3 linked regions of the Homo sapiens genome follow. The protein of the gene in region 2 purifies or fractionates together with the protein of the main gene of each other region. This does not show direct contact. Each region holds a gene or a part of one and is shown on either strand. Other genes may lie near its edges. The genes, in order: GRHPR, CXADR and CD9.

Region 1 (3,653 bases), on a different chromosome or scaffold from region 2:
TTTTTGGTGGCACTGCCAAACTGCCAGCTCACCCCAAACTTACAATTTTCATGTAAGCTGCTGCTGAGACAGATTTGTACAGTTGGATTTTCAGGCTCAGAACGTGCCCCAAAGCTGTTGGGTTCCTCCAAGCAACTCTCTAGTGAGAGGCAGGGCTGTTCGTTGGCTAGACAGGTTCTCCACACTCTCCACCCTCACCCGCACCCCTGCACCAGGCAGGATGACAGAGAACCACCAATAGATAGCTGCTTGGCTAGGCTCACGCCCTTCTGCCAGGCTTCTCCAAATAAGGGCCACTGGAAGAAAAGTGTCTCTGCCTCATCTGCAGAACTGCAGATCAACTCTGCCCACTGAGCCCTCCGGCCCGAGTTAGGGCTTTGTGAGTCACATACCTTCCAGAACGCAAGCCGGAGTAGGTGTCGGGGGAATGGGCTCTCTCACGGTAACCACTCCTAACGGCCCCAACACATTTGTAGTCTTCATCTGTTCTTTATGGAGCCGGAATCATGAAGCCCCCTGACCCTTAGGCAACTTGCTTTTATCACCTGGTGAGTTCTTAAGGAATCCTGCTTTGGTTTATTTATGTATTTGCCTGTGTTTTACAAAGCTGTATCCCTCATTAGAGATATCTCTACTGCAAGCAAAGTGCCCTGACAGCATGTGGGTCTTCTCAGCCTTCAGACACGTGGTGCCAGGGATGCAAACCACGCTGTGAGAGCCGGGGCGGGCAAGCGGGCCGGTGGGAGCCTCACCTATGCGCCCCAGCCCGATGATGCCGACAGTGCTCTGCGTGAGTCCATAGCCACACAGCCAGAGGGGCTTCCACGAGGTCCAGCCACCACTGAGGGGAGAGAGAGGGGCAGGTGAGAGGCCCAGCCTTGGACCAAGATGGGGGCCGCTGAGAACCCGGCACCTCTGACTGTGGTCCAAGGTATAAACCCACCCTCCAGGTCACGGACTGAGAGTGGGATGAGGCACTGCCACTCGGCACTGCAGATGAGCAGCAGAAACGACTCCACCTTTAAAGCCACCAGAGACATAGAACTTGAGGGCGGGAAGGGGCCTTACTGGCTCTCATCCTGTTTTGCAGATGGGAAAACAAACCAGAAAGGGTGACTTGCCTGAGGTCACACAACCAGGGAAGAGTTGAGAGCAACAGGCTGCAAACTCAGGATTTATGATTCCAAAACAAGTTCTCTTGGCACTTTAGGGCAGCAACAAAGAGTACAGCCACAGGGCCCACCCTGCTGCCCTGGGCAAGAGATGGAGCCTGCCCTGAGCCACCTCCAGTAGATGTGATGACTCCCCAGACAGGACAGTGAGCAGGACTCAGCACTGTCTACTCTGCTCCATGCCCCGTGCCGGGGCCCACGCTGCTGGCCACGCACTGTGAGAGCCTGCGTTTGCACGCCTCCCACCTTGACTCGGGCCAGTCCCTCCATCTGCACATGGAATGCTTCCCCCAACTTTTTTTTTTTTTTTTTTTGGAGACAGGGTCTTGCTGTGTCGCCCAGACTGGAGTACAGTGACATGATCTCGGTTCACTGCAGCCTCTGCCTCCTGGGTTCAAGCAATCCTCCCACCTCAGCCTCCCGAGTAGTTGGGACTACAGGCGTGTAACACCACGCCTGCCTAATTTTTGTATTTTTTGTAGAGACAGACTTTTGCCACATTGCCCAAGCTGTTCTCCAACTCCTGAGGCTCAAACAATCTGCCCGCCTCGGCCTCCCAAAGTGCTGGGATTACAGGTGTGAGCCACCGTGCCCGGCCAACTCTAACTCTTGATATACAGGCCGAAATCCCTGATCTGAAACCTTCAGGCTAGATTTTAAAACTGTTTGGCCTTTAGAAAGGCAGCATGGCGCACGTGGTAGATTCCACACATCACCCTCTGCAGTGTCTGGGCAGCAGCCTGTTTTAAAAGTGTTACATCTGCAGCAAAACTTAGGAAAGTCACATTAAATGGGAGAAATAAAAGCCTTAAATAGTCTCCTGTTAGTATGAAAGAACTTTCAGCTGTCCGAGCTTTTTAGATTTTGGGATCTAAGGGATGGTGGACCTGCAGCTTTCAGGACTCAAGCGGACGCCCACCTGCTACTTATTCTGTGAAGCCCTCCCTGATCCACACTCTCCCTGCCAGCCCTCACCCACCAGCAGAACTTGTTTGTCCTCCCTCATCCTCTTCTCTCACCACTTCCCTTTCTGCCCTTATTGCAGCTCTGCTTTGTGCTTTATTTTAGCTGAGTCCTCACTCAATGGGGCACACCTGGGGTCAGGGACTATGCGTGGGCTGGACTGGCACAGTGATCAGGATCCAGTGCTGAGCAGAGCCAACGTTCCTGCCAGGCGTTCACTTATTTTTCTTTTTTTTTTTGAGACAGAGTCTCACACCGTCACCTGGGCTGGAGTGCAATGGTGTGATCTCAGCTCACTGCAACCTCTGTCTCCTGGGTTCACATGATTCTCCTGCCTCAGCCTCCCAAGTAGCTGGGATTACAGGGACCCACCACCACACCCAGCTAATTTTTTTTGTATTTTTACTAGAGACGGGGTTTCACTATGTTGGCCAGACTGGTCTCGAACTCCTAACCTCATGATCCGCTCACTTTGGCCTCCCAAAGTGCTGGGATTACAGCCGTGAGCCACCGCACCTGGTCTGCGTTCACTTACTTCTTCACTTCCTCGATGGCCTCCGGCAACCGGCGGCAGGTGGTAAGTAGCAGGGAGACTGCGAGTTCGGCGGTGGTATCTGTCAGGACATCTGGGGTGTAGCCAACTCGGATCCCACTACGAATCAGACATCTGGTGGTAACATCAGCCTCAACCATATTTACCAATGTCTACTGCTGGGACATTTCCATGGAGTTACTTTGCTCCCTCTTTGATCTGCCTGCCAGGAAGCTCAGAACTATAAATGAGCACTCAAAAACGGGCAGTCCTCATTCCTATTTAGATTATCTCCCACTTTGGAAGGATATGAAGATGGAAGATCAGGGTTCAGGGACTGAACAAGTAACTTAACCTTTCTGAATTTCCTCATCTGAAACAGAAAGAATAACACCTGCCTTTGCTACTTCAAGGTATTGTTGTGGGGATCAAAAAAGATAATGAATGTGAAAGGGTGCCACCTACACAGAAGTTACCCACTGTTTCTGACTGCTGGGGTTTATTGTAACTGACCTGTGCACATGTGGACAGATTCTATCATCAGCCACCTCACATTCTCCCTGAATGGCCGAGGGATATGCAGTAAAAACAAATCAACAGCTCTTCTTTCTCTCATAGCCACCCCTCTCTCTAGGCCCCCTCCAGATCCCAAGCTGCAGTTACCGCTTCTTGATTTCATCCAAAGCCAAGTGGTCGATGCCCACAGACATGGTGCTGATGACTTTGAGATTGGCCCCTGTTGTGCAGAAAGTGCATTGTTAGTATCTTTCCTCGAGGAACTCAAAGCCACAGCACTGGGGACTATCATGGGGACACCGCTTATTATTGTTTTCTTAGAATAAGAGGCTGACATCTCTGTTCTTCAGTTAAAACTCTGAATAATCCCCTTTGACAGCCTCAGACACTGCAGTTCAGGGAGGTTAAGTGGCCTGGCTCAGTCACAGGCAGAGCCGGGTTCACCTCAGGGCCTCTGCCACCAAGGCCCC
Region 2 (2,932 bases):
CAGGTGTGATTAAGATAGAAATATACCTGTAGGTGTTAGTGTTTTCTCAACTATAAAGTGTTACATGGCTTTAACTAGATTGTCTTGACCAGTGATACTAGAATATGAAACTATTTGAGATTTGTGTTTTGTAAGACAACATTCTAGAATCATCTACATTTGTGTAAATACCATATTTCATTAAGTGTGAAGTTATAACTCTTTAATCAGAATGACAGATTGGAGACATACACAATTTATGACGTTATGGCTTGTGCTTTTTGCTTTTTTGTGACACACACACACACACACACACACACACACACTTTTATATGTTTAGTACCTAAATACAGGCTCTTATCCATGATTCATAGCTTGCATAATTGTAGGTTTTTAGAAACTTATTCTCTTGACATGTATTGGGGATTTTGCTTTGCAGGGAAGATGTGCCACCTCCAAAGAGCCGTACGTCCACTGCCAGAAGCTACATCGGCAGTAATCATTCATCCCTGGGGTCCATGTCTCCTTCCAACATGGAAGGATATTCCAAGACTCAGTATAACCAAGTACCAAGTGAAGACTTTGAACGCACTCCTCAGAGTCCGACTCTCCCACCTGCTAAGGTAGCTGCCCCTAATCTAAGTCGAATGGGTGCGATTCCTGTGATGATTCCAGCACAGAGCAAGGATGGGTCTATAGTATAGAGCCTCCATATGTCTCATCTGTGCTCTCCGTGTTCCTTTCCTTTTTTTGATATATGAAAACCTATTCTGGTCTAAATTGTGTTACTAGCCTCAAAATACATCAAAAAATAAGTTAATCAGGAACTGTACGGAATATATTTTTAAAAATTTTTGTTTGGTTATATCGAAATAGTTACAGGCACTAAAGTTAGTAAAGAAAAGTTTACCATCTGAAAAAGCTGGATTTTCTTTAAGAGGTTGATTATAAAGTTTTCTAAATTTATCAGTACCTAAGTAAGATGTAGCGCTTTGAATATGAAATCATAGGTGAAGACATGGGTGAACTTACTTGCATACCAAGTTGATACTTGAATAACCATCTGAAAGTGGTACTTGATCATTTTTACCATTATTTTTAGGATGTGTATTTCATTTATTTATGGCCCACCAGTCTCCCCCAAATTAGTACAGAAATATCCATGACAAAATTACTTACGTATGTTTGTACTTGGTTTTACAGCTCCTTTGAAAACTCTGTGTTTGGAATATCTCTAAAAACATAGAAAACACTACAGTGGTTTAGAAATTACTAATTTTACTTCTAAGTCATTCATAAACCTTGTCTATGAAATGACTTCTTAAATATTTAGTTGATAGACTGCTACAGGTAATAGGGACTTAGCAAGCTCTTTTATATGCTAAAGGAGCATCTATCAGATTAAGTTAGAACATTTGCTGTCAGCCACATATTGAGATGACACTAGGTGCAATAGCAGGGATAGATTTTGTTGGTGAGTAGTCTCATGCCTTGAGATCTGTGGTGGTCTTCAAAATGGTGGCCAGCCAGATCAAGGATGTAGTATCTCATAGTTCCCAGGTGATATTTTTCTTATTAGAAAAATATTATAACTCATTTGTTGTTTGACACTTATAGATTGAAATTTCCTAATTTATTCTAAATTTTAAGTGGTTCTTTGGTTCCAGTGCTTTATGTTGTTGTTGTTTTTGGATGGTGTTACATATTATATGTTCTAGAAACATGTAATCCTAAATTTACCCTCTTGAATATAATCCCTGGATGATATTTTTTATCATAAATGCAGAATAATCAAATACATTTTAAGCAAGTTAAGTGTCCTCCATCAATTCTGTATTCCAGACTTGGGAGGATGTACAGTTGCTGTTGTGTGATCAAACATGTCTCTGTGTAGTTCCAGCAAATCAAGCTGAGCTTTGAAAAAGTTTGTCTTAGTTTTGTGAAGGTGATTTATTCTTAAAAAAAAAAAAGAAAGAAAAAGAAAAAAAGATAAGAAGGAGGAGTAAAGGGACTACTCCTCCTTGCCAAATGTGCTAAATATCATTTTAGGAGAAGAAAGTGGGTTTATTGTATTTCCCTTAAGATTGTGAGGGAGTGTGGATACAGTAGAATGAGCCAACAGTTTCTTTATAATAAATACGGTCTGCAATAAATTATTTCACTAGCTCTAAAACCTTTCCCTAGATTTTAGTAGGGAGTTGGTTTCTGTTAATATCTTTGGGTGCTGTGGTGGTAAATGCTATATTATGAACGGTGGCATGTATTTACAGTTAGAGTATTGTGTGTACACTTTTTAATGGTAAACTTAAGCTGAATGTGTAATGGATTTGTGTATAGTTTTACATATTTGGAAGCATTTTAAAAACAGGTTTTAACCTTATGTAAAATTACTTTTATACTCGTGTTAACATTTTCATCTGTGCCTTTTGGTAATTTAATTTCTATTATGAATTTCTGGTGCCTATGAGCTAGCTATCACCTACCTGAAAGGTGCTTAGAGGTGAAGGTACTGTTTCTAAAAACACATCACTGTGATACCTTTCTATCCTCACATTTTCAAGCTTGCCTCTTTTCTGTTCTTTGTGGATATAACTTAAGCAATTGTGTTATTCATAAAGGTTTAGAAATTTCAATATTCCCAACACTCTATGTTTCTGATTTTATAACAGTAGCCATTTTTGAAAGTCAGATGTTTGGCCTGTTTTATATGAATAAAGTTTATTTATAAAATATTATAAAAAATAAGTAAATAAACAGAACATTAATAATAAAGTTTTGGTTCTTCCTATTCCTGACTTTCATATAATGAAAATTATCCTATTGATCTAAGTAGAAGTTATCATAGAAAGTGGACACGTATAAGACTTTCCTTCCTTTTTTTTTTTAATAACATATGAGGAACAAGACTTCTCTTCCCATATACTTCATATTTTAGAGGACATTGTTTTAAAGG
Region 3 (3,653 bases), on a different chromosome or scaffold from region 2:
TGGGCTGGAGATGCCACCTACACCTGGCCTCGCTTGGGGGCAGTGGGGGTAGTGGGTGCTCGAAGAGAGTCTAAAAAAAACAGCCGGTGCTTCCTCTCCCTGGCCTTTGTCCTGAGAGCTTCAGCCACACCCTTGGTTCCACTGGTCATATAGTCAGGGTGGACAGAGGCGGCGCTCTGGGAAGGGACTCTCCAGGGCAACTCGCACATCCTCCTTTCCCCTTGGCTGCACTGTTGCAGCTGCCCATTGGCATTGTGTCCATAGACGGGACCGCAGCCCGTTCAGTGGCCATGGTCCTTCCATCCCCCGTGAAAACAGCCCCAGAGTGGGACCCGGAGCCTCTGCCCTTCCCCAGAACCACCCTGCCAGCAAAGGGCAGAACAAGATGACATCAGCACAGGCCTCTCTGTGTTATAGCCCTGGGCACGAGCTCTCAAGACACACCCCAGGGTCCTAGAGGAGAGTGCCAGCCTCCCATGACAAAGAAGGCCAAAGTGTCCCTCCTCATCCTAGAAGATAATCTAATTTCTATTTGAAATGAGCAGTCCCAGCTGGGCGCGGTGACTCACGCCTGTAATCCCAGCACTTTGGAAGGCCGAGGTGGGCGTATCACCTGAGGTCAGCAGTTCGAGACCAGCCTGGTCAACGTGGCAAAACCCCATCTCTACTAAAAACACAAAAATTAGCCGGGCATGGTGGTACATGCCTGTAATCCCAGCTACTCAAGAGGCTGAGGCATGAGAATCGCTTGAACCCAGGAGGCAGAGGTTGCAGTGAGCCGAGATTGTGCCACTACACTCCAGCCTGGGCAACAGAATGAGACTCCATCTCAGAAAAAAAAAAAAAAAAAAAAAGAAATTTGCAGTCTGGGTCTCTAAAGGGTTGTGTCTTAGGGAGCCAGGGCTACAATTTGACTAGAGAGGAGGAAAGGAGAGTATGAAGAGATTTTCTCAGGCTTGTAGACAGGAAGCTTTAAAACATCTGAGCTTAGCAATAATAAATTTAAATCCACAGTCCCACATTGTGAGAAAGAAGATGTTTACATTGCACCATGGAGAGCAGGAGGAATATGTCTTAGTGGGAAGGGCCTCCCGTCTCTAGGAACGGGGCCGCTGAGGGAGGTATGGATGACTCCCCACCCAGAAAACATCCAGTGGAGTTGGGCATAAATCTGGGGTGTGCATGCACACTACACACTGCAACTGCCCACCTACAAGGGAAGACATGATGTGGATTCAAACACCAGATTTCTATTGACTTGAAAAGCTACGACGAGCCCGGTGCGGTGGCTCACGCCTATAATCCCAGCACTTTGGGAGGCAGAGGTGGGTGGATCACCTGAGGTGAGACCAGCCTGGCCAACATGATGAAATCCCATCTCTACTAAAAATACAAAAATTAGCTGGGCGTGGTGGCATGTGCCTGTAGTCGCAGCTACTCAGGAGGCTGAGGCGGGAGAATCACTTGAACCTGGGAGGCAGAGGTTGCAGTATGCCAAGATTGCGCCACTGCACTCCAGCCTGGGTGACAGAGCGAGACTCTGTCTCAAAACAAACAACAAAAAAAGCAATGATGAGTTCACAAATAGTATGATTTTGCTGATCATTTCATTTAGAGTTTTAATAAATCAGTACACTGTATTATCATACTACATTCAATCAACTTAGGTTTAAAAGACATTAAACTACACACCTGTAATCCCAGCACTTTGGGAGGCTGAGGCGGGTGGATCACCTGAGGTCAGGAGTTCAAGACCGGCCTGATCAACATGGAGAAACCCCGTCTCTACTAAAAATTAGCCGGGCATGGTGGCACACCCCTGTAATCCCAACTACTCAGGAGGCTGAGGCAGGAGAATGGCTTGAACTCAGGAGGCGGAGGTTGCGGTGAGCTGCGATCGCACCATTACACTCCAGCCTGGGCAACAAGAGTGAAACTCCACCTCAAAAAAAAAAGAACAAAAACAAACAAACAAACAAAAAAAACTAAAATCCTTGAATAGGTTTTGAATTAATAAATTCATAATTAATAAAACTGCCTGATTAACTTTATGGTATTTTTAGCCTCAGTCGAGGTTCTTCTCCTATGACCCATGTATTGTGTTGTTTCTGAACTTGGAGACTAACACACAGCTTAGACTGGGAGTGTCAGCAAGGGACTGGCACCTGAAGCTGTGAAGCTCAGTTCCGAGGAGAGGGCTTGGCAGGAGCCACCAGCTGCTTAGCCTGCTCAGAGGTGTCACTGGAAACTTGGATGTGCATTGGGTAAGCTGTGAAGGGTTACTTTTCTTTTCTTTTTTTTTTTTTTTTGAGATGGAGTTTCACTCTTGTCGCCCAGGCTGGAGTGCAATGGCACGATTTCAGCTCACTGCAACCGCCGCCTCCCAGGTTCAAGCAATTCTCCTGCCTCAGCCTCCCAAGTAGCTGGGATTACAGGCACCTGCCACCATGACTGGCTAATTTTGCATTTTTAGTAGAGAGGGGGTTTTTCCATGTTGGCCAGGCTGGTCTCAAACTCCCAACCTCAGGTGATCCGCCTGTCTCGGCCTCCCAAAATGCTGGGATTATAGGCGTGAGCCACCGCGCCTGGCCTGAAGGGTTACTTTTCTAGCAGAGCTCATAAGAGCCACTATTTCTTCCCTCAGGCACAATGCCTGGCTTAAGGATTGAAGAGGAAGGGCTCTTAAGACCCGGGTTTCTGATTTTTCTCCAAGTCAGTAGTCCCCAAACTTCTCTCTACCGGGACCTCCTCTGGAATCACATTAATCCGGGCCCCTCTCCAAGTCAGGCTGCTTTGCCTTTCCCAGTTACTCAACCAGGCTGCTTCTCAACTCCTTGGGAGTGCAGCTCCCCAAATGATCCCTCCTGAGACATTCCTCCTTTCTGCAAGTCCTCAGAGGACGAGACTTTCCGTCTGCATTTGGAGGGAAGGAGAAGAGAGACAGACCTCCTTTCTTCCTGAACAAAGATGAAGCACCAAGCTCTGGGAAAAGCTAAGCCAAGAGGCCCAACCTGGCTGGAAGATCATACAGTTGCATTTTTCGTGTGTACTAGAAATACAGAGCACTCATTAAATTAACCGAGTGAAAACCACTCCTTAGGCAATGATTAAGCTGAGAGTCAGAGGGATGGGTGGGAGGCCAGCTGTCCCATCTGAGCTGCACTTGATCACTAGGGAATTTATCATTTCTAATGCCTTTCACAAAGTCCCCTGTGATGCCCCCATTGCAGCCCCCGGGGAACGGTGAGGCAACCTGCTTCTTATGGCAGAAATATGGGACTCAGGACAGAGCAGGGGTTGTCTGGAAACTGAGGGAGAAAAACCAATATGGGGCATTTATAGCGTGAGCTCAGGCTGGGCGTGGTGGCTCACATTTATGATCCCAGTGCTTTGGGAGTCCGAGGCTGAAGGACTGCTTGAGCCCAGGAGTTCAAGACCAGCTTGGGCGACATAGAGAGACCCTCTCTGTACAAAAAAATTAGCCGGGTATAGTGGTGTGTGCTGTAGTCCCAGCTACTTGAGAGGCTGAGGCCAGGATTGTGTAAAGCCCAGGAGTTTGAGGCTGCAGTGAACTATGATGGTGCCACTATACTGCAGCCTGGGCAATGGAGAAAAAGGCAAAAAAAAAAAAAATGTCTATGGGCCTCCAGAAA

What was found.
Region 1: the proteins of CXADR (region 2) and GRHPR fractionate together in Homo sapiens (co-fractionation; one large-scale study listed by BioGRID). This does not show direct contact.
Region 3: the proteins of CXADR (region 2) and CD9 purify together in Homo sapiens (co-immunoprecipitation; one large-scale study listed by IntAct). This does not show direct contact.

The regions. Positions count from the first base shown.
Region 1 is NC_000009.12:37,425,672-37,429,324, reverse strand, and holds part of GRHPR (glyoxylate reductase/hydroxypyruvate reductase), read right to left. Parts: intron 3,404-3,653; coding exon 3,331-3,403; intron 2,788-3,330; coding exon 2,671-2,787; intron 842-2,670; coding exon 753-841; exon of another isoform or gene 484-752; coding exon of another isoform or gene 393-483; intron 1-392. UniProt on the Homo sapiens protein: Enzyme with hydroxy-pyruvate reductase, glyoxylate reductase and D-glycerate dehydrogenase enzymatic activities. Reduces hydroxypyruvate to D-glycerate, glyoxylate to glycolate, oxidizes D-glycerate to hydroxypyruvate.
Region 2 is NC_000021.9:17,565,010-17,567,941, forward strand, and holds part of CXADR (coxsackievirus and adenovirus receptor isoform 1 precursor), read left to right. Parts: intron 1-418; coding exon 419-683; 3' UTR 684-2,932. UniProt on the Homo sapiens protein: Component of the epithelial apical junction complex that may function as a homophilic cell adhesion molecule and is essential for tight junction integrity.
Region 3 is NC_000012.12:6,206,881-6,210,533, reverse strand, and holds part of CD9 (CD9 antigen), read right to left. Parts: intron 1-3,653. UniProt on the Homo sapiens protein: Integral membrane protein associated with integrins, which regulates different processes, such as sperm-egg fusion, platelet activation and aggregation, and cell adhesion.